Homo sapiens: one gene and its partners. The protein of the gene in region 3 interacts with the protein of the main gene of each other region in a pairwise test. Each region holds a gene or a part of one and is shown on either strand. Other genes may lie near its edges. The genes, in order: SLC7A1, GOLM1, ST6GAL2 and SLC26A1.

Evidence for each region.
Region 1: the proteins of ST6GAL2 (region 3) and SLC7A1 interact in binary tests that used the Homo sapiens proteins (3 or more experiments, as listed by UniProt).
Region 2: the proteins of ST6GAL2 (region 3) and GOLM1 interact in binary tests that used the Homo sapiens proteins (3 or more experiments, as listed by UniProt).
Region 4: the proteins of ST6GAL2 (region 3) and SLC26A1 interact in binary tests that used the Homo sapiens proteins (3 or more experiments, as listed by UniProt).

Annotation. Positions count from the first base shown.
Region 1 is NC_000013.11:29,508,907-29,515,701, reverse strand, and holds the end of SLC7A1 (high affinity cationic amino acid transporter 1), read left to right. Parts: intron 1-1,118; coding exon 1,119-1,222; 3' UTR 1,223-6,288; downstream 6,289-6,795. UniProt on the Homo sapiens protein: High-affinity, low capacity permease involved in the transport of the cationic amino acids (arginine, lysine and ornithine) in non-hepatic tissues.
Region 2 is NC_000009.12:86,075,555-86,082,574, reverse strand, and holds part of GOLM1 (Golgi membrane protein 1), read left to right. Parts: intron 1-3,233; 5' UTR 3,234-3,254; coding exon 3,255-3,383; intron 3,384-4,983; coding exon 4,984-5,163; intron 5,164-7,020.
Region 3 is NC_000002.12:106,883,165-106,891,050, forward strand, and holds the start of ST6GAL2 (beta-galactoside alpha-2,6-sialyltransferase 2), read right to left. Parts: upstream 3,004-7,886; 5' UTR 2,929-3,003; exon of another isoform or gene 2,703-2,928; intron 2,073-2,702; exon of another isoform or gene 2,011-2,072; intron 1-2,010. UniProt on the Homo sapiens protein: Transfers sialic acid from the donor of substrate CMP-sialic acid to galactose containing acceptor substrates.
Region 4 is NC_000004.12:990,395-998,212, forward strand, and holds the start of SLC26A1 (sulfate anion transporter 1), read right to left. Parts: upstream 3,011-7,818; 5' UTR 2,907-3,010; intron 2,542-2,906; exon of another isoform or gene 2,327-2,541; intron 1,337-2,326; 5' UTR 1,310-1,336; coding exon 734-1,309; intron 1-733. UniProt on the Homo sapiens protein: Sodium-independent sulfate anion transporter. Can transport other anions including bicarbonate, thiosulfate and oxalate by mediating sulfate-thiosulfate, sulfate-hydrogencarbonate and sulfate-oxalate anion exchange.

The DNA of each region.
Region 1 (6,795 bases), on a different chromosome or scaffold from region 3:
AGGGTGGGGAGCTTCCACATGAGATAGATCACCAGGGGTGGGTGCAGCCTGTAGTCCCACGCCTCTGGGCATCTCACCCCAGGGGCTGGAGGGGAGGATCTCATTTCCTTCCCCTCAGCATCTGAGTCATAGTGCTGATAGCCAGGAAAGTGGCCCTGGCCATTGCCCCTCAGGACCATGTCCCTACAGCCTCGCAGCCCTGAGTTTGCATGCTACGGGCAGATGGCTGCTGCCTCATCTCCCAGGGCCCTCGAGGGGTGCTTTTCCTCCAGGAAATACTTTGCGGCCCACTGTCTGCTGGCAGCCGGGTGGGTCCTCATTCCCTGCAAAGTCCAGCCTGTTAGACAGACGTCTCCTAGAGCCTTTCTGAGAAAAAGCTGCTCACAGCTCACTGGCCACTTCCTCCAGGCCTGGTGAAGGCAGAGGGGCGCCTCTTCCCAGCATCCCTGTCAAAGTCCCTGTGTGCAGGAGCCTGAGCTCCTTTCCTGGGCTGTGGGTGGCTGAGTCCTTGCTTTAAGGCCTGTTTTCCTGTGTCAGCCACACAAGGTGGCCCCAGCCCCTGGGCAGGTGGTAAGAAGCATAGGTCCTGGACCCACCCTGGAGTCCCGTGTGCAGGAACAGGCTGTGGACTCCTATGTGAAGTCCATTCCTGGGGCTCAGTGTCTCCTGCAGTCTGACGCTCAGTTATGTGGAGAAATGGGCAGTGGGACTGTCCAGGCTGAGAGCCTGGAGACCTCCAGCACCTGCGGGAAACCCCATCTCCATAGTGCACATTCTCGATACTCTCGTGGCCTCCGGGGGCATCAGGGGGCTAAGCTGAAGGACCCGATGGCCTCTGGTGGCCCTGGCCCAGCTGCTCTGTCTGCTCAGGAAACACCGCAGCATAAGGCCGTCCAGAGGAACGTAGGGCTTTGCCAGATGTCGAAGCAGACAGTGGCCTTCGTGTGGCAGCTGCTCCAGATGTGGAAAGGTCACAGGGGCCGCTGGCTGCGGGCTCATGCCAGGCAGGGGCAGGCCGCCTGAGAGGGTTTGCTGTGGGACCGCCCTGGGCTCTGAGCCCTGCCTGCGGTGGTGCAACCGGCGGTCTGTTCACGCCCGTCTCTGCTGTCGGCCCGCAGGCTTCATCATCTACTTTGGCTATGGCCTGTGGCACAGCGAGGAGGCGTCCCTGGATGCCGACCAAGCAAGGACTCCTGACGGCAACTTGGACCAGTGCAAGTGACGCACAGCCCCGCCCCCCGGAGGTGGCAGCAGCCCCGAGGGACGCCCCCAGAGGACCGGGAGGCACCCCACCCTCCCCACCAGTGCAACAGAAACCACCTGCGTCCACACCCTCACTGCAGCCAAAGGTGCAATTACTTGACCTGCAGCCCCAGCCCACCCTCGGCTCTGCAGCCGGTTCTCCGGGCCCTGGTCACCTCCAGACAGCTGCCTGGCCGGGGCCACTAGGCTGCGGCTGGCCACTGTGTCTCCTCACTTCTCTGAACAAAGCAGTTCCTCCCCTACCAGCTCAGCCCCGAGCTGCCGCAGCCTCAGGCAGAACGGAGGTCACCTTCTCTCCTTATCTTGGGAACCAGGCCTTCCTCCCGGGGACTGTTCTGGGATTGAAATTGTGCATACTCCAAACTTTCGCAGCCATCTTCCCGCTCAGCCCCAGACACCCAGCAATCAAGCCAGATGAGTACCACAAAACAGTGTGTCCCCAGCAGCTCCCCACCCCAGAGCCAAATGACAGTAGTGCACTTAAAAAGGAAAATCAGGCCTGTTGTCCTTCTCCGGTTGCATTCAGATGGGTCATTAGGGCCGGACCCTGCCTGCCCCTTGGCTTCTCAGGGCTTTGCTCTGACACCATGACAGCTGCCCGGGGCTGAGGGCAGCTGGCTCCACTCAAATGAGGAAGAAGGGATCACTCCCATTAGGGCCTGCTTTGCTTATGCATGTGTGTGCACATGCATGTAAACCAGGGACCTTCAGCTCACGGCCTCCAGGCCTGGGCCAGTTCTTGCTGCTCCTGCCGTCTCCCCCGACTGGCTGTGTCCTGAGTAACTGGAACATGAGACAGTATCTGCAGGACTGGCCCCATGGTGGCCGAGTCAGAAGTCTGTTTCCTGTGAGTCGCCACCGTTCACTCAGTCTTGCCCTCCCATGCTTTGGAGCCAGTCTGGTGGCTCCTGTAAGGTTCTCAAGGCTGGTGGCAGCTCAGTCTGGGGTCAGGACATGTCGGGGTCATGCGTTTCTGGCCCTGACATAAGCTGTCTGGCCTCTCTGTGACATGATGAAATTGAAATCAATCCACAGTCCATGAAATTGTGACACTCCACCAGATTAAGTTAGGGCATAACATTAACTTGGAAATGGCCATGTCATCACCCCTGCGGCTGTCCTATAGCTGAGATGCGTGGGTCGCAGGGGAGGTGATTTCTAGGCATATTGCTGTCCCTTTTGTGTATCTGTCATCCGGATGCTTCGGACCCCACGCCTCTGCAAGTGGGAGAGACCCGAGCATCCTCCCCACCCCCATAGCTCCAGTGCACGCCACCCCCGTCTTGCCTGGGTCGGGGCCTGCGGCCAGCACCATTTCACACACACTCCTTGTAGATGGGAGCCAGAGGAAACCTGAACGTGGGTGGAGCGTTCCACTGAGTCTACTTCAGGAGACAGAAGGCCCATGCTGATGGGGGAGGAGGAGGGATGTGGGCATTTTGGACACCAGGGGAAATGGAAATGCTGCTTTCAAAACTTAGTTTCCTTTCCATTTCTTCCTAGTCTGGCCTTTGACACAAATCTGGTAGAAAGAAGCCTGATAAATTGAGGGCACTTGTACCCTCCCTGTGCCCCCAGAAGGTTCTTGGAGAGAAGTGCAAGAATTTGTGAACACGGCGGTGGAGGGCGGGTGGATGGCCATGGGCTGAGCCTCCGTATCAGGCCTGCTCACCTTGCTGGGAGCTTTATTCTGATCTCATTTTGAATGTTCCAGAGGGAGCATCATAAGAGCCCAGAGCTCCGATTTCCAAAGAGTGATATTGACATTTATGGAGATTGGTGTTGTAACATATTTTGATAAATACTAACTTATTTTGTTGGGGTTTTGGTTGTCTCTTGTCTTAGGACCTGGTAGTTATTTGCTTGATTTTTTTTTCCGTTATTTTCTACATAGGCAAAGAGAATTCGAGGGATAGACAGTCTCCAAGAAAAGTGAAGTGGTGGGAGAGAATTGCTTTTTTCTTTTTTTTCTTTTCTCTAGTTTTTCTTTCTGGCTGAGATTTCCGTGCAAGACAGCACCCAATAGACTATTTAGAGTTGACATTTGACATTTTAATGGGCGCCATGGCTCATTTTGTAGATTGAGAAGGTGCGTCTCCCCTGCTCCAAGTCTCATCATGACAGCGTGCTGACAGCTGGGAGTCTGTGGCCTTCCTCACGCAGAGGCCTTAAAGCTGGACACAGAAGCACGCCTAGGCTGGGCAGGGATGGGACCCATGCCCCCTCCTTAGAGGACGGGCTTCCTGGTTAGGAAAGGACACGTGGGGGTGCCTTGCATAATAGTTCACTGGTCACCGTGCTTTTATGAGTAGTGTTTTTGTGCACTTGCCAGGGGTTTTCTCTCTGTGTGAGAGGGGAGTGATTTAAGCAATGGTGTCTGGAGTAAGCCTTACAATTTTAATAGACTTTTTCTTATCATATCCCTCATTTCTTTCCCTGAAATAAAAATACACACAAGCAAAAAAAAAATGATAGTTTCACATCTCTTAGTTCCCTTGCCCAAACAAGAATATTCTTAGTTCCACTGGCCAGGATTTTCCTACATAGTCAGAACTTACACATTACTAGAGGCACACCCACCAAGGAGTATTGTGTCTACTTTTATCTGTGCACCAGCCACAAATACCCACATTGGAAAGACCCATTTGTGATGGGTAAACATCCCTTCCTGTCTCCCACAACCCCTGTGACTGCCCTGCATGTGTTCATGACCTCCGAAGGCCCAAATTCATGAAGCAGCAAACCCAGCAGATCTCCACCCCCCTGCCTCAGGACCTCTGCTGAAGAGGGGGATGAAGTGGGTCTCCAGGGAGGCAGTGGGGGCCTTGTTGGCAGCTGGCTCGGGAGCCGGCTTACAGGAGGGCAGCTCTGCAGTTGGGAGGGGCACCGTCCGGAGGAGACCAGGCCTCTACACACCCCCCACTCTACTTATCATCCCTGCTCACACACCCTTGTCCAAGGCTTTATGCATCGGATTTATTTTTCCAAATCAAGAGGACAGTGATAGATGCATTTTCCCCAGGCTGTCTCAGAAAGGTCGCTAAATGTATACTGTTGTCAGAATTGCTGAGATCTCCCCCCACTTTTGGTTTTTGCAGCAGTAAAAACTCTTTCCACTGTGACTTATTTTCTCTCTCAGGCAGCCAGCCACCTGGTCCCTTGTGCTGACTCTAGCACAGTGGCCAGGATCCAATACGAGTCCAGGGGTGACCGCAGGATGGTGGGGGCAGCGGGCTTCTCCACCTACCCCAGCCACCAAGGCCCTGACGCACTGCCTCCTGCACCTTCAGCACATCCCTGTGCACAGCTGGAAGGGTGCATGGCCCGCTCACCTTTGTTCAGATGGGTGGAAACGCTGATGATACCAGCTCCTCCCTGCCGTGCCCCTGCCACGGAGCAGGCATTGTGAACTGGCTGGTGTTTGCAGTCCCACGTGGCATGGCCTCCAGCCCAACCCACAGTGGAGACTGGAGACAGGGCAATGAGTCTGGTGGGGGGCACGTGGACATGCCCCATAGGGGCCCCACCCAGACTTAACAGGCAAGGTCCTGGGCATTGCGCGACGCAGGACTCAATGCTAAAGCAAGCCTGCCTGGCTCTGTGCCAGGGCCCCTCTTCTGATTCACACATCCCATTTTTACACAGACCCTTCCTTCTTAATAAAGGCTGACAGTTCTGTTGGCAGCCAAGAACCCACACCATGAAGACAGGGAGTGAGGGGCCTTTGTGCCCAACTCCAGCACAGCTGCGTTCTGGGGTGTGTGAGAGGCATGTTCGTGTCTGTGCGCTGGTGGTCTCGTGAGACAGTTCCGAGGACGGGGAAATTGCAGGGTGGTGGGGGCGTGAGGCTTATATGTGGAACTGATGCAGAGTTCGCCTGCAGACGGATCTGGATATACACTATGTATAATTGTTACGTGTAATTTAAAATATATCTGTTTGCCATCGTCATGAGAAGATTATATGTAAGGCTCTGAAGGGAGAGGGAGATGTACATTCTGCCAGGCTCCTGGGGACCTTATCCGAGTCATGAAATTGATTACTGTTGATCCAGTGGTGCAAGAAGCTACACTCCATGTGTCATCACGCTTATGACTCCTAATGTATTTTTAAGGCAAAAAATGTCAGCCGACTCCATCTTCACCCCTCGATTCCTCGAGTCCAGCCTTTCTGTGCCAGTGCTTCACTGAGCCACAACGCTCTCGCCATCGGGACCCGGCTGGGCCTGGAGTCTCGGGGCACAGTTGCCATGGAGCCCTCCTGGGTCATTCTACAAATGTGCTGAGTGCCAGCTGAAAACCCCACAGGAGATGGAGTACCTTGGCCAAGCTTAAAGAGAAGATTTTCTCAGGGTATTTATTAGTGTGTCCAGCAGGGTCAGGAAGCAGGATGGAAAGATGCACTCAGACTGTTAATTTATTAACAAGGCAAATGATTTTGTGTTTCTTGATGACAGACTATTAAGTTTGGGACTTATTTTCCCATTTGAGAAGTTATAATATATATTTAAGATGATAAGTTTCCTGCTTAAGTTGTGCCTTTCAGCTTCAATGAGTTTAAGGAGCACTAAGGGTAATGATACCAATGAGGGTTGGTTTATTATCAAACCTGAATAGCTGTGGTTTCTCCAGTAAATATTTTCTTCTACTGAACATGGAGCCATTATTAAGAGTTGTGTGTTTTTTATTATGTACATTTGTATATTTTTTTGCTTGTTTGATGTTCTATTTTTCTAATAGTTTTCTTTTAGTTTCTTAAAGTTGTGATACTAGATTTAGATTCTGATGCTAACTGCAAATCAGGTTGGTCTCTGCTGGGTCTCTCCTGCTTTTATTTTACTTTAAGGACAAGTGTAGTTGTCGTCCACCACCTTTCAAAAAATGTGAAACTGCCCTGCCTCCCCTTTTTGCTGACAACACTGTGTACATTGACCACTTCCTACCATACTTTATGTTGTAAAATCAAACTCTTTTGTGGTACATTATCTCATGCTTCTGCAAATTCGAATAAATTCTATGGCTTCCATGTGCATGGTGTGATCTCAAGAATCCTAGTGGGTCTCTCCTGGGACCCAGGCCTGGAAGTGCCCCATGGAGAGTTCCAGATCCCGCTCTGCTTCCCCACAGCCCGTGACTTTAGTCCTATCTTCTCACTTTCCTGTAGCCATTTGGGGAAAATCCTTATTCCAACAATTTGAGCCTCAACCAGAGAATCCCTTGAGCCCCCATTTTGGATCTCTGATACTGTCTGCAGATTTATTTGGCTTTGGGGCCACAGAGGTCTTCCTTCCAACCAAGCTGTTGGGATAAAGCAGCTCAGAGGCTGCCAGTTGTCAGGCATTTGCTGAAGGACTTGGTCTCTGGCAACAAAACGCCCTCACCTGTTGCCGCCCCAGTCTGTGCTGGCCTGCACATACACTATCCTGTTAGAGGGAGCAGAGTGCATGCAGGGCGGAGGGGCTGTCGGGGAGTGTAGCTATCCTGGTAATTGTTACTATCTCACTCCCTCAACTCCCTTGAGAAAGGATCCATT
Region 2 (7,020 bases), on a different chromosome or scaffold from region 3:
CAGCTACTTGGGAAGCTGAAGTGGGAGGATCACTTGAGCCCAGGAAGTTGGGGAAGCTGAGGTGGGAGGATCACTTGAGCCCAGGAGTTGAGGCTGGGATCACACCACTAGGCAGCTATTTCAGCCTGGGTGACAGAGTGAGTGTGTCAGCCTGAGCAACAGAGTGAGACCCTGTCTCAAGAAAAAAAAAAAAGGAAAGAAAAGAAATGCAGTGGTGGAGCCCAGGTATTGATATTTTAAAAAGTGTCAGGCTGGGCACGGTGGCTCATGCCTGTAATCCCAGCACTTTGGGAGGCCGAGGCGGGCGGATCACAAGGTCAGGAGATCAAGACCATCCTGGCTAATGGGGGAACTTCGTCTCTACTAAAACTACAAAAAATTAGCCAGGTGTGGTGGCAGGTGCCTGTAGTCCCAGCTACTCGGGAGGCTGAGGCAGGAGAATGGCATGAACCTGGGAGGCGGAGCTTGCAGTGAACCTAGATCACGCCACTGCACTCCAGCCTGGGCAACAGAGAGAGACTCCATCTCAAAAAAAAAAAAAAAAAAAAAGTGTCCCAGGTGATGCTGATGCCCCTTGAGTGTTGAGGACCACTGGAACAGAAGGACCCAGATGTTAGAAAATGTTATCCCTTTCCTTTGGAGTAGGATGAGGGGGATGTAATTTATCCTTTTTTCTTTTTTTTTTTTAATCAGAGTCTCGCTCTGTCGCCCAGGCTGGAGTGCAGTGGTGTCATCTTGGCTCACTGCAAGCTCCGCCTCATGGGTTCAAGCTTTTCTCCTGTCTCAGCCTCTTGAGTAGCTGGGACTACAGGCATGTGCCACCATGCCTGGCTGCTTTTGTATTTTTAGTAGAGATGGAGTTTCACCACGTTGGCCAGGCTGGTCTCAAATTCCTGACTTCAGGCCATCTACCTGCCTTGGCCTCCCAAAGTGCTGGGATTACAGGCATGAGCCACTGCACCCGACCAATTTATACTCTACTGTGTGTAGTTTCCTATTTTTTCCTTAGCAAAAGCCATTTGGAAAAGTCCCTGCCACCCCCTCTTGTATTTGTACTTTTATATTTTAAAAACAAGGTTAGCTGGGCACGGTGGCTCATGCCTATATTCCCAGCACTTTGGGAGAACGAGGCAGACGGATCACCTGAGGTTGGGAGTTCCAGACCAGCCTGACCAACATGGAGAAACCCCGTCTCTACTAAAAATACAAAATTAGCTGGCCGTGGTGGTGCATGCCTGTAATCCCAGCTACTCGGGAAGCTGAGGCAGGAGAATCGCTTTAACCCGGGAGGCAGAGGTTGTAGTGAGCTGAGATCACACCATTGCACTCCAGCCTGGAAAACAAGAGCGAAACTCCGTCTCAAAAAAAAAAAAAAAAAAATCATTGAGGCTGGGTGCACTGGCTCATACCTGTAATCCCAGTACTTTGAGGGGCCCAGATGGGAGGATCACTTGAGGTCAGGAATTTGAGGCCAACCTAGGCAATAGTGAGACCCTGTCTGTACAAAAATTGTTTTAAAAAATTAGCTGGGCATGGTGGCCCATGTCTGTAGTCCCAGCTACTTGAGAGGTTGAGGGCAGGAGGATTATTTGAGCCCAAGAGTTTGAGGCTTCAGTGAGCCACAATTGCGTGACTGACTCCACCCTGGGCGACAGAGACCCTGTCTCTAAAATAAATAAACAAAAATTTTAAAAAGTTTAAGAGTCAAAAAAGAGACTCTTGTGATCAAGAGTCTCTTGAGTATATTCAGTGCTTGCTGATATCAGCTGATAATTGAAAGAAAAACGTGGTTTCCCCTTTCATCCTGAGAGGCCAGAAGCTGGTAAGACATGAGCACAGGTCAGAATTTCCACCCGTGGGAATTCTGGGGGTGCTTTATTTTAGATGATTCGGCTAGATTGCTTCTTTATCCCCTGGCAGGCCCCCATACTAGTAGCTAGCTGTTAAGAAAAAAGAAGCCTTTTGGTGACCCACCTGAAAAGACCATAGGGTGAGGATCAGTTCTCCCATGTTCTCACTGGTGAGAATTGGGTTTTGCAGGTGAATCCTTGGTGGTATCCTCTTCCTTACCCGTCCCTTGTCTTTTTTGCCCACCATCCCCTTTCCTCCTCTGTTGCTAGACACCCCTGGTGTAAAAGGCTCTCTGTGCTCAAAGGCTGTTTGTTGCAGTGCAGCCACGCTCACTCTGATAAGGTTCTGTTTTATCTGGCTTGGGAAAAGCCATTTGGAAAAGTCTACTTTCCTTGTTCCTAGAGACCAGTGCTTGCATCCAGGCAGACCTGGCTTTGAATTGAAGCCCATTAACAAAATTTATGGCATCTTTCTTCTAAGCTGTATTTTTGTGCACTCTGTAGCTCTCACACAGAGGCACTGTTTTTCCTAACATGAGGTGTACAATGCAGCAGTTGCACAGATACGGTCCCTAAAGTGAGAAATGAATGTTCGAAAGAAGGTGCTCTCGTTTGGCATGGAGTGAATGCCTTGTTTCCACCTCAAATCCTAAGATGGAACACATTTTTCCTGGTGACTTCAGGCAGATGGCACACCTCCCACTTCCGTTGTGTGTCATGAAGGAGGAGACACTTCTATAGCCAGGGCTGTGCCTGAATAATGATGTACATGGGGGGGAGTTCACATTCACCTCCAGAATGGGTTTCCTGCTTTGCTTGAGAAATGCTTTAATTGGGTGTCATTAGTAATCCTGTCAAGGGTAAAAAAAACCTCCCTTGTTAGGAATCAAAGCAAAAAGCTCTCTCTGAGGAGTAATGAGGAATATACTCTTTCTAATATGATGCGGAAGCACTTAATATTTGTTATTGGTGTTTACAGAAATGATTACTTCTCAAACATTGCTGCTTACAGAAATGATTAATTCTCAAACTATGCCGGGAAGGTGAGTATGGTAATGATTTTACAAGGGAGGAATCTGAAGTGTAAGAGGAATCATGTCTTGCCCCAGGTCTCGAGCTAATCTGTGGCAGGTTTCGGGGCGGTGCCTGCTCCTCCGAGCCTGTCCTGGGAACTGGCCACACTGCCCTGGGTTCACAGCACCATGGGCTCTGTGCGTGCCGTTCACATACTCTTCTCCCTTGACAGCTTTGCACGTCAAGGAGAAGCTACCAGCCCACGCTTCTTGGCAAGACTCCTTTCCTCTTGGTTGTAAGGATGATACGGTCTGCTTCGGAGATGATAAAACTAGTATTGATGTTTATTTATTTGCTTTTACTTGGCAGATTCTCAGCGCTGATTTTGAGATGATGGGCTTGGGAAACGGGCGTCGCAGCATGAAGTCGCCGCCCCTCGTGCTGGCCGCCCTGGTGGCCTGCATCATCGTCTTGGGCTTCAACTACTGGATTGCGAGCTCCCGGAGCGTGGACCTCCAGGTGTTTTGTTTTCTTTATTGTTATGTTTATTTTATGTTTATGTTTTGTTTATTTTGTTATGATGGGGTCCCAGGGGTTTGTTGTTTATTGCCAGCCAGGGCGTTTTGTGCAGGGCACACGCTTGTAAGGTGAGTTTAGGGCTCTGCACACCCCCACAGCCCTGGGCCAGACCCCAAGCAGCTTTGGGTGGGAGAGGTCCCCTCTGTGGTTGTGTAGGATTGCGGTTGTGGTATCCCTCCCTGCCTTTCCTGTGAGTTAACAGCATTCATTTGAGCTACTGGGGTGGTTCTGGGAAGACAGCTTGCTTACATACACTGGCCATAGTCCGTTGTTTGCGGTCCTCCGGCGCCCAAGATATCGAAGAGTAGTATTGGAAGTGTGCTTGGATGATGGGTGTAAGAAATATGTTTTTAAAGGTACCAATCTTTATCTTCATTACTTAATGATAATAATAATTTTAACTTCCTCATTTACCGGTGCAGTCATGGGTCAGGTGCAGTGCTGAGCAGTGACAAAGATGCTCCTCTTGATTGAACTTGAGTCGGGCCCTTCTGAGCCGTCTTCTTGACTAGGCCTTGATCTTGGCACCTCCCAACTCTCACTGCCTGTCTTTGGCCTGCCCAGCCCAGTCCTAGCAAAGGATCCCGCTAAGCCATCCTTCTACCCCTGATCCTTGACCAAGTTCCTCATCCCTACCCTTGCTGTCTAAGTCCTTGGCCTGTGTTTAGCAAGAATCTTGTTAGGCCAGTTTAGCAAGAATCCCCCTACTCTGGGGGCGATTTCCATCCACTGACTCCCCGCACTGTGCTCGTTGGCTATAAATCCCTAGCTGTCTTTGATGTGTTCGGCATTGAGCACAATTTCCCTCTCCTATTGCAATCGTTTTGAATAGTCTTTCTTACCATTTTAATGAATGTCAGAATAATTTCTCTTTCACAGTACTTTATACAAATTATCTCCTTTTGTGCACAAACCCTACAAGGCTGGGACTTGACTTTCCTCATTTCACAGGGGGTCAGACTGAGGCACCAAGAGGTTGAGGTGGAGCAGGGATTCCAACCTGCATGGGCTTAGCCGTGGCACCCCAGCACGTCTGTGCTCTGTCCTGTTCTCACACTTACCCTCCTGGGCTTGTACTCCCTGTGTCTCAGCTTCCACGGGAGTTCCTGTTCTCTGGGCAGATGAGGTCTGCTTGTCTGGAGTTGGAGAACTGAATCTGTTTTCAGAAATTGTATCTGCTAAAGAGTTGTTAAGTGCTTTGTTAGCAGCGAAGAAGAACTAAATATTTGAGCATCATCTTATGCCAGGTAAAGCATGAGGCATTCTGTGCACTTAGCACATTTAAGCCTCACAAAAACCCAGTGGGAAGTGTGGTGTGAGTGCACAGAGCCTTCCTTCACTTACACTGACAGAGACCATTTTTTCCAGAAGAAACCGCTCCAGCTTCTGTCCAGTTGACTTAAAACACAGCCTTGGGCACTTGTGTGTATAAGACTGGTGCTGGCCCTGGGCCCCAAGGTGGTCTTTGTGGAGGGCGCTCAGGTGGTCCAGGCTCCTCAGGTAACTTGGCATCAGCCCTAATGCCACGGTCTCCTTGTAGACACGGATCATGGAGCTGGAAGGCAGGGTCCGCAGGGCGGCTGCAGAGAGAGGCGCCGTGGAGCTGAAGAAGAACGAGTTCCAGGGAGAGCTGGAGAAGCAGCGGGAGCAGCTTGACAAAATCCAGTCCAGCCACAACTTCCAGCTGGAGAGCGTCAACAAGCTGTACCAGGACGAAAAGGCAAGGCCTGCTTTGTTTCCTCTCAGTTCTTTTCTAAGGGATGGTGTCTACATTGTCTGTTTCTTCTTGGCGGGAGGATGAGCAAGCGGCTGGGTTTAGATTTATGTAATTATGTGGAAAGAGCCTATTGATCAAGCTTTGGGCATTCTCTCCCTTTCCCCTCCAAGTCCCTGGCTGGGCTTGCGGTGAAGCCTTTTGCAGTGGTAATAAACAGGAGAAATGCAGAAGAACAATTTCAGATTCATCCTCCTATTGGCTTTTTTTTTTCTCCTATTGGGTTTTTTCTTCCCACTTTCCACAAACATGTATTAAATACCTACTCTGTGCCAGGCCTATGCCAGGTGCTTATATCTCAGAGAAAAATAATATTTGTGCCCTCCAAGTATCTAATGGAGGAGAGGAGAGGCAGACTCTACTAAATACTAACAGAGAAAGTAGGGGACTGCACCCTTGCTTTTAAGCTAGGAAAAAAACCAACAAATCCTGCGTAGATTTAAAGGGGCCTTCCTGCTAATTAAAATATCTAAGCTTTATGTGTCTTTTTTTTTTTTTTTGAGATGGAGTTTGGCTCTGTCGCCCAGGCTGGAGTGCAATGGTGCAATCTTGGCTCACTCTGCCTCCCGGGTTCAAGCGATTCTCCTGCCTCAGCCTCCTGAGTAGCTGCGATTACAGGTGCCTGCCACCACGCCCAGCTAATTTTTATATTTTTAGTAGAGATGGGGTTTTCACCATTTTGGCCAGGATGGTTTCGATCTCTTGACCTCGTGATCCACCTGCCTCAGCCTCCCAGAGTGCTAGGATTACAGGCATGAGCCACCGTGCCCGGCCTGGTTTTCTTATGTAGGAATATATGACTATACTTTCTTTATTAAATTGTGTAACTGTGTGAGTTACTAATATCTCCTGTCCCAGAGTGCATCAAACTTTGGCCTCTATTATTAACTAGAAAAATTTGGCTTTTTTTTTTTTTTTTTTTTTTTTTTTTTTTTTGAGATGGGGTTTCCCTCTTGTTGTCCAGGCTGGAGTGCAATGGCGCCCTCTTGGCTCACTGCAACCTCTGCTTCCCGGGTTCAAGCAATTCTCCTGCCTCAGCCTCCCAAGTAGCTGGGACTACAGGCATGTGCCACCACGCCCAGCTAATTTTTTGTATTTTTTAGTAGTGATGGGATTTCGCCATGTTGGTCAGGTTGGTCTCGAACTCCTGACCTCAGGTGATGTACCCGTCTTGGCCTCCCAAAGTGCTGAGATTACAGGCATGAGCCACCGCACCTGGCCTGAAAAATTTGGCTTTTATAATGCGTGTACCTCTCTCTCTGGAGTGGCTAATTTATTGGAAGAATGTTGTAGCTCAACTTCCATTATCTTGAATTGTCTCAGAAAATGAATTATTTCCAGGAAGGGACTCAGACTTTTCTCGCATAACTGATTTAAAATTCAAGAAGTACTTTTTTTGTTGTTTAATTTGCAGAGTACTTTCCTATATTTGCAAGCTCATATTTCTTCTCTGGGAATTGTGCATAATGTTGTTGTAATAAAGTGCTTCTTTATGTTTCTTCCCTTTTCTTACTGGTGAGATATGCTTTTTGTGCTCCTGAAATCCCCTTTAACCTCATCTCTCAAAAAGAAAAAGAAAAAAAAGAGCATCAAGTAGTTATTTGAAAAGAGAATCTGTTTCCACAGTTTTTCTCTTTTAGAATATGCGATATAAATGTCTTTTCATTTTGGTGAGCAAGGGTGGGTTCTCACATCAAACCTTAGCTGCAGGAGGATTTTAGCTGTGGTTTGGTGGTAGGAGGCATGGAACTTGTGAGTCAGGCAGACCCGGGTTTAAAGTTCCCTCAGCTGTGTGATTTTAGG
Region 3 (7,886 bases):
GTATTTTGAATTGCAACTGTTCCCCTATCAATTCAATGGGAGGGGTGGGAGGTGGCTGGGACCAAGCAAGGGTAAATTTCAAATTTTGTAAGGGGCATAATAAATCCGTGTTTCTCTAACACTGATATCTTCGCATTGTGTACTTAATAACATTTAGAAAGAAATTTCTCAAAAGTTGGAAGGAGAGCTTTCGGAAAAATGGTAGGTATATTAAACTGAAAATGTGGTAATCCACTAACAGTGGCTGGTCATCTACAGCCCATTCAGTGTTTGGCATTGATATCAAAAATTGGTGTAAGAACATTGAAAATTTCTGTGCAAATATGCATCTGTGTTTCCCTTCCACTTTCCAAAATTAGTATATAATTATATGCAATTGTTACTTTTATAGTCATTTGGGAATTTCATCCCATTTTTTTTAAGGGATGAGATTTCAGATTTCAATGCTTAGAAAATCAAAGCTTAACATACACCTGCCATGAGGGTACTATCTGATTCCCTTAGACATTTATGCATGCTGAATTAAGTACTTAATTTAATTTAAGCAATTAAATTTTAAGATCATATTACAGAAAATCCAGGAAAAGAAAAAACTCAATCAATCAGGAATAACACAATACATTTAAAGAGCAAATGCATTAACAAAGACTGTCCTTATTATCATGCATAAGATATTTTTATTCAAAGTCTCACCCATGAGGTAGCAATCTGCAAACTAATTAAGAGCTTCCCAGAGGACAAATATCTCCAAGTTTTTGGAAAGGAACCTATCATTTATTTACCTAAGAAGGAGTGGCAGAAGCCTAGAAATCAGTTTGTCTTTCAGAAAAGATTTAATCATTTGAGAAATGCTTGGATAAATTCTAAACCTGGAGGGTAAAATTTCAGTCAGTATCAGTATAAGCAATAGACCAGAGCCTCACACACTGAAATCATCTCAGAAAGAAGAGAAACTCGGGGGTGGGGGGGTGGAACCTCCAGAAACAAGCACGTACAGGAATTTTTTCAGCAGTCCCTTCGCTATTTAATCTTTGCTGGCTGGATTGGCCACAACTCCCTAGACTCAACTTATGTCTTCACCCCACAGAGTAAACCTTTTCCCTCTTAATTATCCTCATCAGAAACTCAACACAGATAACTGCCCTCTTCTGCATAATAAATCATTCACATATTTTCAAATGTTAAATTGTCTCAACTTTGAATCCTCTAGTCTAAAAATCCTGAATTTTGTATCCTTGCTTCCTAGATCCTGTGCACCACATAGCAAACTCACCAAATGTTGGTCCTTGCTCTGACCTCACTCTTTCCAGGAGTATCCATCCAAAGCCTCTCTAAACTGTGGAGCTCAGTACTCCATATAAAGCAGTGACTCCTATCACAATCTCTACAAGACATTTAACTCAAAACTCCAGAAGCTTTCACAGCACCAAGCAAAAATGTAAGATGCTACCATTTGTATCTATTGCGGCAAAAATTGGATAGAGTGCCTTTTTAACTTTGCAGTAAAATTCAAGGCACTTCACCTATTATTTTAGACTTTCATCAGTTTTGAGCACAATATCCATTCACCTTTGCCAACAGTTTCTTTTAATGCATTAGTACAAAATTCCTCAAGTGGTATATAAAAATTTTGGTTGTCAGTTCCAGAAAAATAATGGGGGAAGGAGAGTGGGTAAAAACAGGTTCAAGGCCACACATCAGTTTTCCTTTTAAAAAAAGTTTTAACCCTAAATTTGCAGCGCATATATATATATATATATATATATATATACATACACACACACACATATATACATATGTGTATGTATATACATATACATCATATATATATAGCACTTCACTTTATTGGAATTCTTCCTTGGTCATAAATTATATTTCAAGTTGGCAAAAAATGTTGATCAGAATTTCAAAAAAGGGAAGCATCAAAGTAACCAGCATGGGGTTTTTCAAGTGTGCAGAAAGTTCTCTAAATACAAAATGTGCTTCCAGCCCACCAAAGACCCCCCTCACCCAAGCAGGCAGTCCTCGGCGAGGAGGGTCAGCATGCCCCTTTATGGTCAGAACGGCAGTGGTGCAAAAGACAATGATTTCAACCAAATATGGTTTGCCTCTCGCCAAATTTTTCGCATGTCCAATAAAAATAAGTTCACAAAAATCCAGCCAAGCATTACTTTCCCCCCAAAAGTGCTTCTCAGATTACAAAACAGCTTTGAAAGTTCAGCCTGACAAAACAAATATGGTACTAGGAGGAGAGACCTGGAAGGCAATCACAAAAAGTCTCATTTAAATTCCTGGAAAGCACAGCTTCTCCAAACACAGCTATTCAGCTCTTTGGAAGGCAGCACTTGCGGGAGCCATTGAGTTTAACTTCACTCAGTCCCCCAACACAGAACCGGCAAATCCGAATGAGATGGACGTCACACTCCCTACTCAAAAGAATGCATCAAATATCCACTCCGTAACACCGCGGAAAGTAAACCCAAAAGCGGAGTTTGCCGCCTGCCAACTACATAAGAATTAACACTCGGGTATTTAGGATTCTAAAGATCCCTACTACCCCAAACATTATAGCCACAGAGAACCAGAAATGAACAGAACACACTTTAACCTTTAAGAAGTGCAGTTTTGTACGGGGGTTGGCTGAAGAAAGACAAAAATCTTCACTCCCTTCCAGAGCCAAAAGAGCCAAAATAAAAGATCACCTTTACTGAGCCACAGGGGCACAACTGTATCCGCCCGTCCCCAAAGCGCAAGCCGTCCTCCCGTTCGCTTCTCCAGAATTTCCTGCTTTTCCCCAAACCACCTTCAACATTCCCCACACACGGGTCTCGCTCCTAAACACGGAGTGTAACTCCGCGCACAGCAGCGCGGAGGCTGCAGCGCCACCAAGAAAGGCGTCGCCAACCCTTACCCAGTGCCCTCCCTTACCAGCCTTCTTCCCACGCCGCGCCTCGAAGCGCACGACACCGTGGTGCTCGGTGCTCCCCCTGGCAGCGCGGCACTGGAGTCCAAGGCGTGCGTGTCACATTTTATTCCCCGGCAGCCGCTCGGGTGCGCGCGCTACGCGCTCCCACACTCACGCTGGCGCCCGCTAGAGCTGGGACCCTGGCCGGGGTCCCCGACTCACGCCGCGGAACTTGGGGGCTGCAGAAGGCGAGTGCGCGGCGGGAGTCGTCCTGCCGCAGGCTCGAGTCCTCCTCCTGCCACCGTGGGGTCTCGGAGCTGCCCCGCGCTCCCGTCCCAGGCGGCCTGCGGGATCACCTCTCCGGGGCCAGCGCTGCTCCGCGCCGGCGGCAGCTGCAAGCGCGGGCGGCGGGGCACAGCGGGTGGCTCGGCCTCAAAGCCGGCGGGAGGCTACGCTCAGCCCCGCGCTGCACGCCTCATTGTTTCGGGCAGCGCGGCGGCGGCTCCCGCGGCCAGAGGAACCGCGGCCCCGAGCCCCGGGGAGAGGCGGCGGTTCCCGGCCCACGCACCGAGGCTGCGCCGCGCCCCGCCCCCGAGCTCCGCTCGCCCCAGAGCCCCCTCCCTCTCCGCGATCCCTTTCATCCTTCCCGCTCCAGGCTCACCTAGCTGGCGGGAGCCGGGCACTGGGAAGTTGGGCTGCCCCCTCCCCGCGCCCCCGGCCCGGCAGCTCGGCCCGCCGGCGAGCGCAGGCGGGGCGCTCCCTGGCTGCGCGCGGATTTCTGCTTGTCGCGGAGAGTGACTGCAGACTTGGGCTGCGTGGGGCGGTGCGGGGCAGCACGGCTGCCTAAAAAGGCGTGTTTCTCCCCGGCCGCCGCCTCCATCCAGCCCTAGTTCTTCCGAAGGTTACCTGCACAGTACCCGCCTGGCACCGCGCCTGGACACCTCCGGGGCACTCGGGTCCCGGGCGGCGGCAGGAATGCAGGAATGCGCACAGGCTGTGGGCGGCCAGGAGGGAGTCCCGGCGCCTGCCCCGGCGGAAGTGAGTCTTTGTGTACCCTGTCCAACACCTCCCCCCGCCAGCGCGGAAGGCCGGGCTACCTGCGCGCCTGGCAGCGCCTGGCAGCCGGCTGGGTGGGGCGCAGGGGAGCGCAGCATCCTCCCCGGCTCGCTAGCTCCCTTTGTTCATCTCGCTCAACCAGGCTCCGCACTGCCGCCTGGCCCTCGCTCCCAGAGCTTCTCTAAGGATATGGGATGGACTTGGGAGCGGGCCACCTTTCATTTGGGAAGGGTAGCTCGCCAAGTCCGGTGACGGTGCTCCCTGGAGACCCCCACCTGCCCGCCCCTCCACACTGCCGGTCCCCAACCCCAAGAGGGACGGAAAGTTCTTGGGGTAGAAGCCGGCGGGACAAGTGGTTGAAGCAGCCTCCGGAGCCAGTGGGCGGCTGCGAGCTGGGCAGCTGGAGCCTGCGGGCGGGGCCGCGGGGAGGTGCCCATCGAGTGTCGGTCTGGTCGCGTGCGGAATGTCCACTTGTCACCGCGGCCCTTGCGTTTTCTCGAGACGGCGGCAGCTGGTCCTAGGACCCCAAACCGCGCCGCCCTTTGTTTGCTGGTAAATACTCTCCTGTGAACTTCAGCGTGTCTCTCCGCGCGCACTCCTGGCATTGGGTGCCCCACCCCGCTGGTTCTCTCGCGGACCCAAAGAGCTGTTCAGGTGTAGGGGAATCCCAGGTAGATGGATAATATTGCTAAGGTTGGGCCCATCTCAGGGGGACTGGTTAGTCACCCCTCACCCCACCCCACACCCTCAGTCGCTAGAAGGACACACGTTTTGGAGACAGAGATCTGCCATTAAATGTATTATTTAAAAATCCGCAAATACTTTTATTCAAGTAATTTAGACTTTTTTTTTAGGGGGGAAAAAGCAATTAACTGGCTACCCAATTCATTCAGCATTCATTAGTGCCTACCTTAGCCTGGAACTCTGAGCTAGACAGTGGGCGCCCAGAACTCCCTCAAAGAGTTTACAGAAATGTAAAACAGCACGGGAATTAAACTAAAATCGAGTGGGTATAATGCACTGTGTTCAAACAAAAGTGTGGGCCGAAAACGCTTACTCAGTATTTCCCCAATTGTATTAATTATGTCTGACACATGGAATTCTGCGGAACTGCCTGAATGAACAATGTGTTACACAGATATTTTTTAAAAAAAGAAAAATTATGGCCGGGCGCGGTGGCTCACGCCTGTAATCCCAGCACTTTGGGAGGCCGAGGCGGGTGGATCATGAGGTCAGGAGATCGAGACCATCCTGGCTAACAAGGTGAAACCCCGTCTCTACTAAAAATACAAAAAATTAGCCGGGCGCGGTGGCAGGCGCCTGTAGTCCCAGCTACTCGGGAGGCTGAGGCAGGAGAATGGCGTGAACCCGGGAAGCGGAGCTTGCAGTGAGCCGAGATTGCGCCACTGCAGTCCGCAGTCCGGCCTGGGCGACAGAGCGAGACTCCGTCTCAAAAAAAAAAAAAAAAAAAAAAAAAAAAAAAAGAAAAATTATATTTTATAAATGTGAAATACATACAGTGTGGTTAAAAGTGACCAAAACAAAACAGAAACAAACAACCTGATAGAGACCCATAGCTGGTGGGGATAGAGAAAGGAAATACTGCAGAAAGACTCACCTTCTTAATAGTAGAGGGGCGCAGAGGGGGTTGCAAAGTCTGTGGGCTTCTGTTTCTCTTCTGTATAATGGATGTAATAGTACCTACCTTCAGCCTGGCGCGGTGGCTCACACCTGTAATCCCAGTACTTTGGGAGGCCGAGGCGGGCGGATCACGAGGTCAGGAGTTCGAGACCAGCCTGGCCATAATGTTGAAACCTGTCTCTACTAAAAATACAAAAATGAACCGGGCGTGGTGGCAAGCGCCAGTAGTCCCAGCTACTCGAGAGGCTGAGGCAGGAGAATCGCTTGAACCTGGGAGGCGGAGGTTGCAGTGAGCCAAGCTGGTGCCACTGCACTCCAGCCTGGGTGACAGAGAGAGACTCCCTCTCAAAAAAAAAAAAAAAAAAAAAATTATATAGTATCTATCTTCAAGGTTTGTTGTAAGTAGAGAGCATGTGTTAAAAGCATCTCCCCCAGTGCCTGACATGTTATACCTAATAAATTGTAGTAATTAATAAATGACAGTGGCCATTATTAAAACACTTTACCTTGAAACAGAAAAAATTGTACACTTTTTATAGTGTATATATATCTTATACACTTACTATCCTTTCTGCGTAAATACTGCCAAAGTTGATATCTTAAAGAAATTTTAATGAGTTAAATAAAAGTGTCCAAATAACAGTCAACTTTATAGAAGTAGAAAAACTACCATCTTAAGGCAAATATGCAAATTACTGTTGTAAAACTTTAAGTGGATTGAGTTCATTACTTATGATCAAGGTAGTAAATACACAGTCACTAAACCGACTTAAATCTATTGCTTCCCAAAGGAACCACAAAGCCAGTTTATATACAGGAAGCTATATGCTGATGATTGCTTCTGTCAAAGTGTAATGGTAAATAAAATATTTTGGCACCCTTTAGTTTAATTACTCAGAGACACAAGGAGCAGATTATTTAATTATTTTATTGGTCTGTAGATTCATGAGGAATTCCTGAGTACCTCTGGCACTATAATATTATTTTCCTTACAAAATCATCAATAACAACAAAGCACAATAAACTTATTCCTACAGATAGGCAGCATTCAGAAATCCACTTGCTGTTATCCATTTGCTCATAATAATATGAATTTCCTTTCTTTCTTTTTTTAAATTCAGGGTTCCTCAATTCTCCTTTTCTCACCCTGTGTTAACTAACCAGCTGAGCTTTCACAGGGACAATTCCTTCCTGTTTCAGGAACTTGAAGCACATCATGAACAATCAACCAAATCAGGAAGCTCAGTTACTCAGCTGAGAAGCATTCAGGTGGGACAGGGATGAAGAATAAATATCTTCTAACTCCACCATTGGTGAATCTGGGCTATTTTATTTCTCTTACCTATTGTTCATATAAATATATTTTTCTCCCATTCATTATGCCACTCAAATTTCACAATAAAACTATAGATTATTTTACAGATGGGAAAACTCACCGATAGAAACTTTCAGGACCACTTTCTCTAAACAAGTTGCCTTCGTTTTCTGATTTACCTGAGATTTTCCATCTGTAGCATTGCAAAAACACATTGATTTCTTCCCTTGCTTGAGAAATTAGTACCTCAGAAAGGAAAATCTATATCTGGGCTCCTCCTATTTAATCAGTGAAACGAATTTTCATGTGGCCGATCAGTATTTAAAAAAAAAAGAATTTCAGATTCTTGCTTTTTGGAACCCATTATCCACTGACAAGATCAGGTAGAAACATTTGTTTCCTAGCCAACCCATAGATTTTTTTAAAAAAGTAGTTCCCTTTGTCTTTGGAAATGTTCATAAGGAAATAGACCACCATTAGAAAAAAAATGCTTCAGGTATTTGCATATGTATAGGAGACAAAATCCTCGGCCAGCAGGAGCTTCTTCTACCTTTCTGTCAGTGTTTTCAGGTGGAGAGAAAAACATTATTTTTTAGCATCAGATATAGGAATGATGCCATTTTCAGTATCTGCAGTAGGAACAATAAAACCAAAATGCAACTGGTTACCCTTAGGCTTGCTGACACCCGCGCTAGTCTGTGGGCTGCCGTCCAGGAAATAGAGGCTGGCCTCAGAGGCGGGGTCCTGGGGCCACAACCTGACCTCAGCTGGCAATGAGCTGTACCAGACAGAGCAATAGAAAAACATGTCAGTATGTGAAAGAAACTATCCTTTCCTAAACTTCTCCTTGCAGCCCACTATCCAATATTAAAAAGACAGAACTGAAAGTTGGATCTCTGGGTTTTAGTCCTGACTTTGTCCCTTTAGTGATGTTATTTGAACTTTCTGAGTCCAAAGAACCTCATCAGC
Region 4 (7,818 bases), on a different chromosome or scaffold from region 3:
CCTGGCGGGAGCCACCTGCCCCTCACCAGCACCTGGCATGGCCCGAGGGGTGGTGGTCACGGCACAGGACCTGACAATTCTGTGTTGCGGCCCCGTGTGTTCCAAACCAGACTCCTCACACGGGCCTGAGTTCTGGTTCCACGCGTGCTCATGCCCGCAGACAACTGTGACATCCACGTGAGCATCACACGTGCACACAGCTGGCCATAGACACGTCTAACCCTTGTCACGTGCAGCAGCCCGTTTTATTTCAGAATTAAGACCTCTGGTATCAGAAGGCAACCCCTTCCTGCTGCTTCCTACACATGGTGCCCACTGCCCCCCATGCAGATGTGGAGCCAACGGGGGCCAAGGTGGACAGGCCAAGGCAGGAGACCTTCGGGGGTGGGGAGGCCATCCCCCACTCCACCTAGGACAGAAGGCCTGGGAGGCCACATGGCCTCAGTCCAGCACCACTGAGCCACAGCCACACCTGGCCTGCTGGTCCCCACCAAGGCCATGGCCCACCGGACTGGCTCCCCGTGCCCCTCCCCTCCTGCATCCACAGCCTCTCCGCGTCGGTGCCTCGCCCTGGGATGCCCCGGCACGCCCCAGCTCTGCCCAAGCCTTGCTGTCTTGGGCCAGCACCTCCTCTGCCAACCCTGTGCTTGCCCCCAGCCTTGCCCTCGTGGATGGCCAAAACCTAAGGGGGGGTGCCCTGGGCCCCTCCCTGTGCCCAAGCAGGGCTCCTCACCTGGTAAAGCCCGGTCATCAGCGTGAGGGCGGTGGCGACACGGATGGCGTAGCAGTCACGCCCGCAGTCCAGCATGGCAGCCGAGCCGTTGAGGGTGCTGCTGTTGGCTCCGGGCTGCAGGCCGTCCTGGGAGGGGTCAAAGCCGGCCAGCTGGAGCTCCCGGTCCACCACCTGCCCCACCATGAGGCAAAGCAGGCTGAAGATGCCCACGGAGACATGCCGTGAGGTGCCCATGAGGAAGTAGATGAGGTTGGCGAAGAAGGACGTATAGAGGCTGTAGATGGGCTGCAGCCCGGCCAGCAATGAGTAGGCGATGGCCTGCGGCACCAGGATGATGCCGATGACCAGCCCAGACATGACGTCGCCTGCCAGGTACTCCCGCGGGCGGTACTGACGCAGCCAGCGCGTGGCGGGGAGCAGGTCCTGCACCAGCGCCCGGACGCACAGCACACTGCACGAGCAGCTGCACCACAGCCTGGCCTTCAGCATCTCACGCAGACCCCGGGGTGCTGGGCGCTGCCGTCGGACCGGCACCGGCCCTCTGCCCTGCTGCAGAGGCTCAGGGGACTCGTCCATCCTGTTGCGTCAGGTCCCGTGGCCGACCTGCGGCCGAGAAGAGGGCATGGTCACAGGAGCCCCCGGATCCAGGGCCAAACGACAAGGTCCCCGGCAGCAACGGGCCCCTTGGGGCGGACCCCTCGCCCACCCAGGGCCGGGGATTGGTGCTGGGCCTTCTCCTGGCAGCGCGGGCCCCAGCCCCCTGCCCGGTATGGATGGACGCTGGGCCCTGCTGGATCCAGAATCCATCGTGAGGTGAGATGGGATTACGACACCAAGCCCATGCCATGGGGTGTGCTGAGGCCAGCAGTGCTGAGGGGCGGCGTGGCGGCACCCTGTCCAGGCTCAGCTCCGGCCTATTGGCTCTGCGGTTCCTGGCTGAAAACCACCCTGTAGCCTCCTGAAGCTCACCTCCCCAACGGGGCAGGAACAGGCTGGGCTGCCACCACGCACATGTGCCTACCGTCAGAATGTCACAGTCACTGGACACAGGTGCAGGCAAGCCTGAGTCCAGCTGCTCCGTGTCCACCTCCCTGGCTCCCCAGGTTGGCAAACGGTCCTGCTGTCCACCCCATGCCCACACCAGAGCCCTCCCTCCCCCATCCAAACCATCGCCTGCTCTCCTGGAGACACCTCCACCCACCCCTCTGTCACCTGCCCTGTGGGTCCTGGGGCTGGCGGAAGTCTCAGGAAGAGGCCTCCTATGTCCCTGCCAAGCTTTGTGGGTACTGGGACCCCAAGTCTGCTGGGGGAGCAGCACTCAGACACTAGCCTAGCCCATCCGCCTGGACTTGGGACAGAATTCTGAGAATATGCCTGGACGGGGGCCCCATCAGGGCCAGCTGGGAGGGGAGGAGGGTGACTGGCGTCTGTCTCCCCTGCCCAGACAGTTCTGGGACGTGAGGCGCCCTTTTTCCCAGGCTGCACCAGCTCACTGTGGAACGGCCATGACACACTGTCCCGAGGCAGCACCGAGAGGGCCCAGCCCGCTGCACACAGTCACCCTGGGCCGGCAGAGCCGGAAGGGCACCTGACCTTTCCCTTGATCTCGGAAAACACCGTGGCGTTAGGGAGGCGGTGCTTAGAGGCCTGACTGGTCCCACGTGAGGCCTCGGGTCTGTCCTGTTTGCAGACTCCAATGTACTTTCACTTTAAACATTCTTCTCAGCGACGTTAGGCAAAGACTTTGCTCCCAGGACACCAGGTGCCCAGGACACCCTGGAGCCTGGGCTGAGCCTGCTGTTTGCACGCTGGCCCAGGGTGTGCGAGCTCCAGTCTCCTGGCGGGTGTGTTGGGGCAGTGAGCCCAGCCTGGTAGGTTGACACATGCAGGCTGGGCACAGCACCCCTGGGGCACAGAGCGGGGGTCCTGGCCCTCAGGCAACATTGCAAGAGTTGTGTCCCCTTCCCTGGAAGACCCCACCACACTGGGTCCCTGGATGCCCTGAAGCCCACCCCAAGCCCCTGGGGTCCAGGTGTGTGGAATGGGGACAGTAGGGCCACCTGCCTTGAGCCTGAGGGTGCCCCTAAGAAACCACGAGTCCAGGGCATTTCTGGCCTCGGCTCCCACGCCCCCCTCTGCTGCAGCTGAGATCTGGGCCCAGGATGGTTCTTACCTGAGGGAGTCCTCACAGGCGCGGAGGGCCCTGGGATGACGAGGGGCTGGCAAGACCACCGAGGACCGCAGGGCCCTCTGGCTCCCGCGAGCAGCGGGGAGAGTGGGGGTGGTGGCGCCAACCTGCAGGCAGTGGTCTGTGCCCTGGACTCTGTAGTTCAATTATTTACCTACAGATTGCTGAGTCATGGGTTTCTCCAGCCATGTTACCTGATCGGCTGATCCGGGAGTTGAACTGTAATCAGGGGCTTGTAGGAGTTAGAGCTGTGTGGGCCTCTGAGGAGCTCCCAGCCTCCCAGGAGCCGCTGCAGCTGTGGCTCTGCGGCCCTGCCGGGGGGGCTTAGGGACCAGCGGGAGGCGGGGGCTCAGGGGCTGAGCACAGGTAAACCTTCAGCTCTGGGGTCTGGGGTCGAGTGCAGCAGCCTTCAAACCCAGGCGGGGCTGAGGGAGGCTTGGTCTCCGTGTCCAGTCGCCGGACACCCTCCTGGTCCTGCAAGGAGCCAGCCTGGTCCAAGCTGGAGCAGGGCAGAGGCTGACAGCCGGCTCAGCCCAAGGCTGCCGGTGCGTGCATATGCGTGTGTGCTCGCGTAAGCCCTGTGTGTGGTGCTCACCGCCCAGGGCGAGGACTGCCGGGGTCAAGGTGCCGTGACTGGCCAGGAGTCCTGGTCTGACTGGACCCAGCACCGACCCACAGCGCCTGGTCACCCTCACGGCTCCTCTGCCCTCCCCTCTACCACAGACCAGGACCGGCAGTGCCTGCCTCATAGGGCTGGGGTGAAGATAAATGATTTTTTTAAGTGAACTAAATTAGGCCCACACGTGAAAATAAGGGTAAGCTGCTTTTTAAAAGGAATTATTAGCCAGGCACGATGGTTCACTCCTGTAATTCCAACACTTTGGGAGGCCTAGACAGGAGGATCGCTTAAGGCCAGCAGTTCAAGACCAGCCTGGTCAACATAGTGAGACGCCCCCCACCTTTTCTTTTTTTTTTTTTGAGGCGGAGTCTTGCTCTGTCACCCAGGCCGGAATGCAGTGGTGTGATCTCGGCTCACTGGAAGCTCTGCCTCCTGGGTTCACGCCATTCTCCTGCCTCAGCCTCCTGAGTAGCTGGGACTACAGGCGCCCGCCACCGCGCCCGGCTAATTTTTTTTTTTTTGAGACGGAGTTTCGCTCTGTTGCCCAGGCTGGAGTACAGTGGCATGATCTCGGCTCACTGCAAGCTCTGTCTCCCGGGTTCAAGTGATTCTCCTGCCTCAGCCTCCCGAGTAGCTGGGACTACAGGCACCCGCCACCACGCCCGGCTAATTTTTTGTATTTTTAGTAGAGACGGGGTTTCACCATGTTAGCCAGGATGGTCTTGATCTCCTGACCTCGTGATCCACCCACCTCGGCCTCCCAAAGTGCTGGGATTACAGGCTTGAGCCACTGCACCCGGCCGCCCCCTGCCCCCCAACCTTTAAAAAATTAAAAGTAAAAAATTAGCTGGGTGTGGTGGTGTGTGCCTGTATCCCAGCTACTCAAGCGGCTCAGGTGGGAGCATGGCTTGAGCCCAGGAGTTTGAGGCTGCCATGAGGTATGATTAGGCCACTGCACCCTATCCTAGGCCACAGAGCAAGAGCCCGTCTCAAAAACAAACGCTGTCATTGGCCCAGCACTTTGGGAAGCTAAGGTAGGAGGATTGCTTGAGCCCTGGAGGTCCAGGCTGCAGTGAGGTATGTTTGTAGCGCTTCACTCCAGCCTACAAGTCTTTTTTTTTTTTTTTTGAGATGGAGTCTCGCTCTGTTGCCCAGGCTGGAGTGCAGTGGCACAATCTCGGCTCACTGCAGCCTCTGCCTCCCGGGTTCAAGCGATTCTCCTGCCTCAGCCGCCTGAGTAGTTGGGACTACAGGCGTGTGCCACCACGCCCGGCTAATTTTTGTATTTTTAGTAGAGACAGGGTTTCACTATGTTGGTCAGGCTAGTCTTGAACTCCTGACCTTGTGATCCACCCGCCTCGGCCTCCCAAAGTGCTGGGATTACAGGCGTGAGCCACCGTGCCCGGCCAGTTCTGTCTCAAAAAAAAAAAAAAAATTCCTTGGGAGCCTCAGGTCCCCCCGACTTTGACAGTGAGTACTGGGTGGGAGCCTGCACGGGGCACCTGTGGCCGGAGGGTGAGTGTAACGAGGGGCTGCAGCCCTCAGTGCTCTCCCATCCCAAGGGAGGCCAGGAGGCTGCGGTGGGTCCCTCGGGTGGGGCTGGAAGGCCAACCCGGCCCTGGCACCTTGGGCAGCCTGACTCTGTCCGGGGAACAGAAGCCACAGGCTCTACTTCTCCTGTCCATGTGGGATTGAAGCCGAGGGTCTCGCAGAACCAGCTGATGTGCCGGGGCTCCATTTCCCCAAGACGAGGACACTGACATTGATGGGGCACAGCCCCGGAGGGAGGAGACCCTGGACACTCACCCCACCAAAGGTACCTCCTTGTGGAAGCCGTCTGCCAAGCGCTGCTAGTTCCCCACAGCCCTGGGTGAGCCCAGGGAAGACTGGGCTGCAGTGCCCCCATTTGGAGGTGAAATGGGAGTGGAATGTAGTTGGGATGGCCAGAGAGTAGGAGACATCCTAAGTGTGAGATGTGGACAGGGCTGAATGCTCCAGGGTCTCGTACCCCAGAGTGTGAGATGCGGGCAGGGCTGAACGCTCTGGGGTCTCGTACCCCTGAGTGTGAGATTCGGGCAGAGCTGAACAGGCTCCAGGGTCTCATACCCCCATAGCCTCCACCTGGGATGCCCTCTCCAAGTCTGATTTCTCCTCGAAGCCCCTGCCCTGTCCTCCAGAGTCTGAGCCCTTGCTTCCACCCCAGCCCAACCTGGGCCCCAGTGGTCCCTGGGAAGCAGCTGTTTGCTCAGCAGTTGGGAGCTGTGCTGTAAGAAGCGGTTGGCCAGTGGGTGGGGTAAGGCAGTCACGCAGGGCCTCAGGTCCCTCCCTGGGACAGATAAGGGCCCCTCTGGGTGCAGCCACCAGCAGGGTTGTTGGAGAACTGGGGAGACCCAGGGGGCTGGGGTTGTTCCCTCAAGGTCTCCCTAAAGGAGGCAGGGAGGACCTGGGTGCTACAGCAGGGGTGGGGCACCTGGTGCAGACGCCTGCATGCAGGGTGGGGTGGGCAGTGCCACCTGGGGCCACAGAAAAACCTGGAGTGGGAGGTGGCCCTTCCCCCCTCAGGAAAGGTGGTGGAGGTTTCCAGAGGCTGGCTTATGGGGACCTGTGGTGAGGTTTTAGGCAGGTGAGCGTAGTTCAGGAACAGCCTCAGCCGCACTGCAGGGGCCTGGCCTCAGGTCTTCTGCAGGCATTGGGCCTTATGCCCTTTTAGTCCCCACCTAGGCTGGGTGTCTAAAGTAGGTGAGGTCATCACTGCAGGATCCTTGGGGCCTGACCTGCCCCCTCCCACGTGTCTCTGCCTCAGTTTCTCTGAGCATTGAGGCAGTGGCTGGTGCTGTCCTGTGGCCAGGCCCAGAGGCTGAGTGCCCAGGGGGTCCAGGGGCCTTGCTGGCCAGAGAGAGTGGGTAGCCCATTCTACCCCGAGCCTGTGCACGCGCAGGGCTGCCAACACCTCCTTCCTTCCCCGCTTGGCCCACGCAGGACAGGGGGCGTGGGGGCCCCAGCAACTGGGACCTGCCTGAATCCGCCTCCCTCCTGAACCCCCCTCCCGCCTGAACCCCTGGCCAGTCTTGTGTCACACGCTTACTTCCTTAGTTTTGTCTTTAAATCAGCCGTTTTACATTGGAGTCCATTTACTGGGAAAGGAGACCTTGCATCCTTGCCTCCCACCCGTGGGAAGAAGCCCGGCCGACAGGGCTTTGAGACCGGACCCGAGTTTATTCCCAGAGACCCTCCCGCGGGTGGGCGAGCTCCGAGGTCTGGAGAAGAGGAGGCCCCGGCCCGCACCCTCTAGCACCTGTGTCCCCTTCGTCCCGGCCACAGATGCAGGTTCTCCCAAGAGGCGGGTCTGTACCCGCCCCGCGCCCCCAGCCCAGCGGGCCCGGCCTCCGCCCCTGCCCCGCACTCCCACCCCCACCCTCAGGAGAGCGCGGCCCTGCTCCCCACCCCGCGCGGTCTCCCCCCACCGCCTGCGAACCCCCATGCACGCGCGGCCCCGCCCCGCGCACTCACCAGGCCCGGCAGCCGCGCGGTCTTAGCGGCTCACGCGCTCGGGCCCAGGGGCGGGGACGTGGGGACCCGGGCGGCCGCTCAGCCGCGGCCGCGCGGTGAATGAGCCCGTTGTGCGGCCGCCGCGGCCCCAGCGACACCCCGCGCGGGGTCTACAAGGGCTGACGCGCCCCCGCGGCTTCCGTTCCCGGGCTGGGCGGTGGCTCGTCTGCGTCTCCGGCCCTGGGGGTGGGCTGCGCGCTCCATCTCGCCGGCCCAGTCCCCTCCCCAGCGTCGGTCTCTCAAGGCCCCTCCCAATGGGGGCCAGGCGGAGGGTGGGCCCTCGGGCCTGTGGACTGACCCCGGGGTTCCTGGGCCTGGGGGCGGGGATCCCTGTCCCGGGCTCCCCTCGCTGCGAGGCTGGCCCTGCCAGATGACACTCAGAGGCGCCTTGGGTGTCAGGCCAGGGACATCTCTGATGCTGGGGCTCCCCCCGCTAGGGTCAGGGGCTGCCGGGCTATCGCCTTGGGGTTCTGCAGAGAAAACCTGAAGCCCAGCTGGGTCTTCACTTTCCTCCAGGTCACCGTGCCCCGCTACTCCAACTCCGTGGGACTTTGGAATGCACCTTCTGGGCATTTAATTCTTATCCAAGTGCCTCTTAAGTTATACTTCTTTGCTACCAGTGTGTCCTTTGGATGGAGGGGAGGAGAGGTGGTAGGGGCCGGGTGGGGTGGACCCCAGGGACTCCTGCTGCTCCTGCTGGACACCCAGCCCGGGGTACAGGAGCAGGTG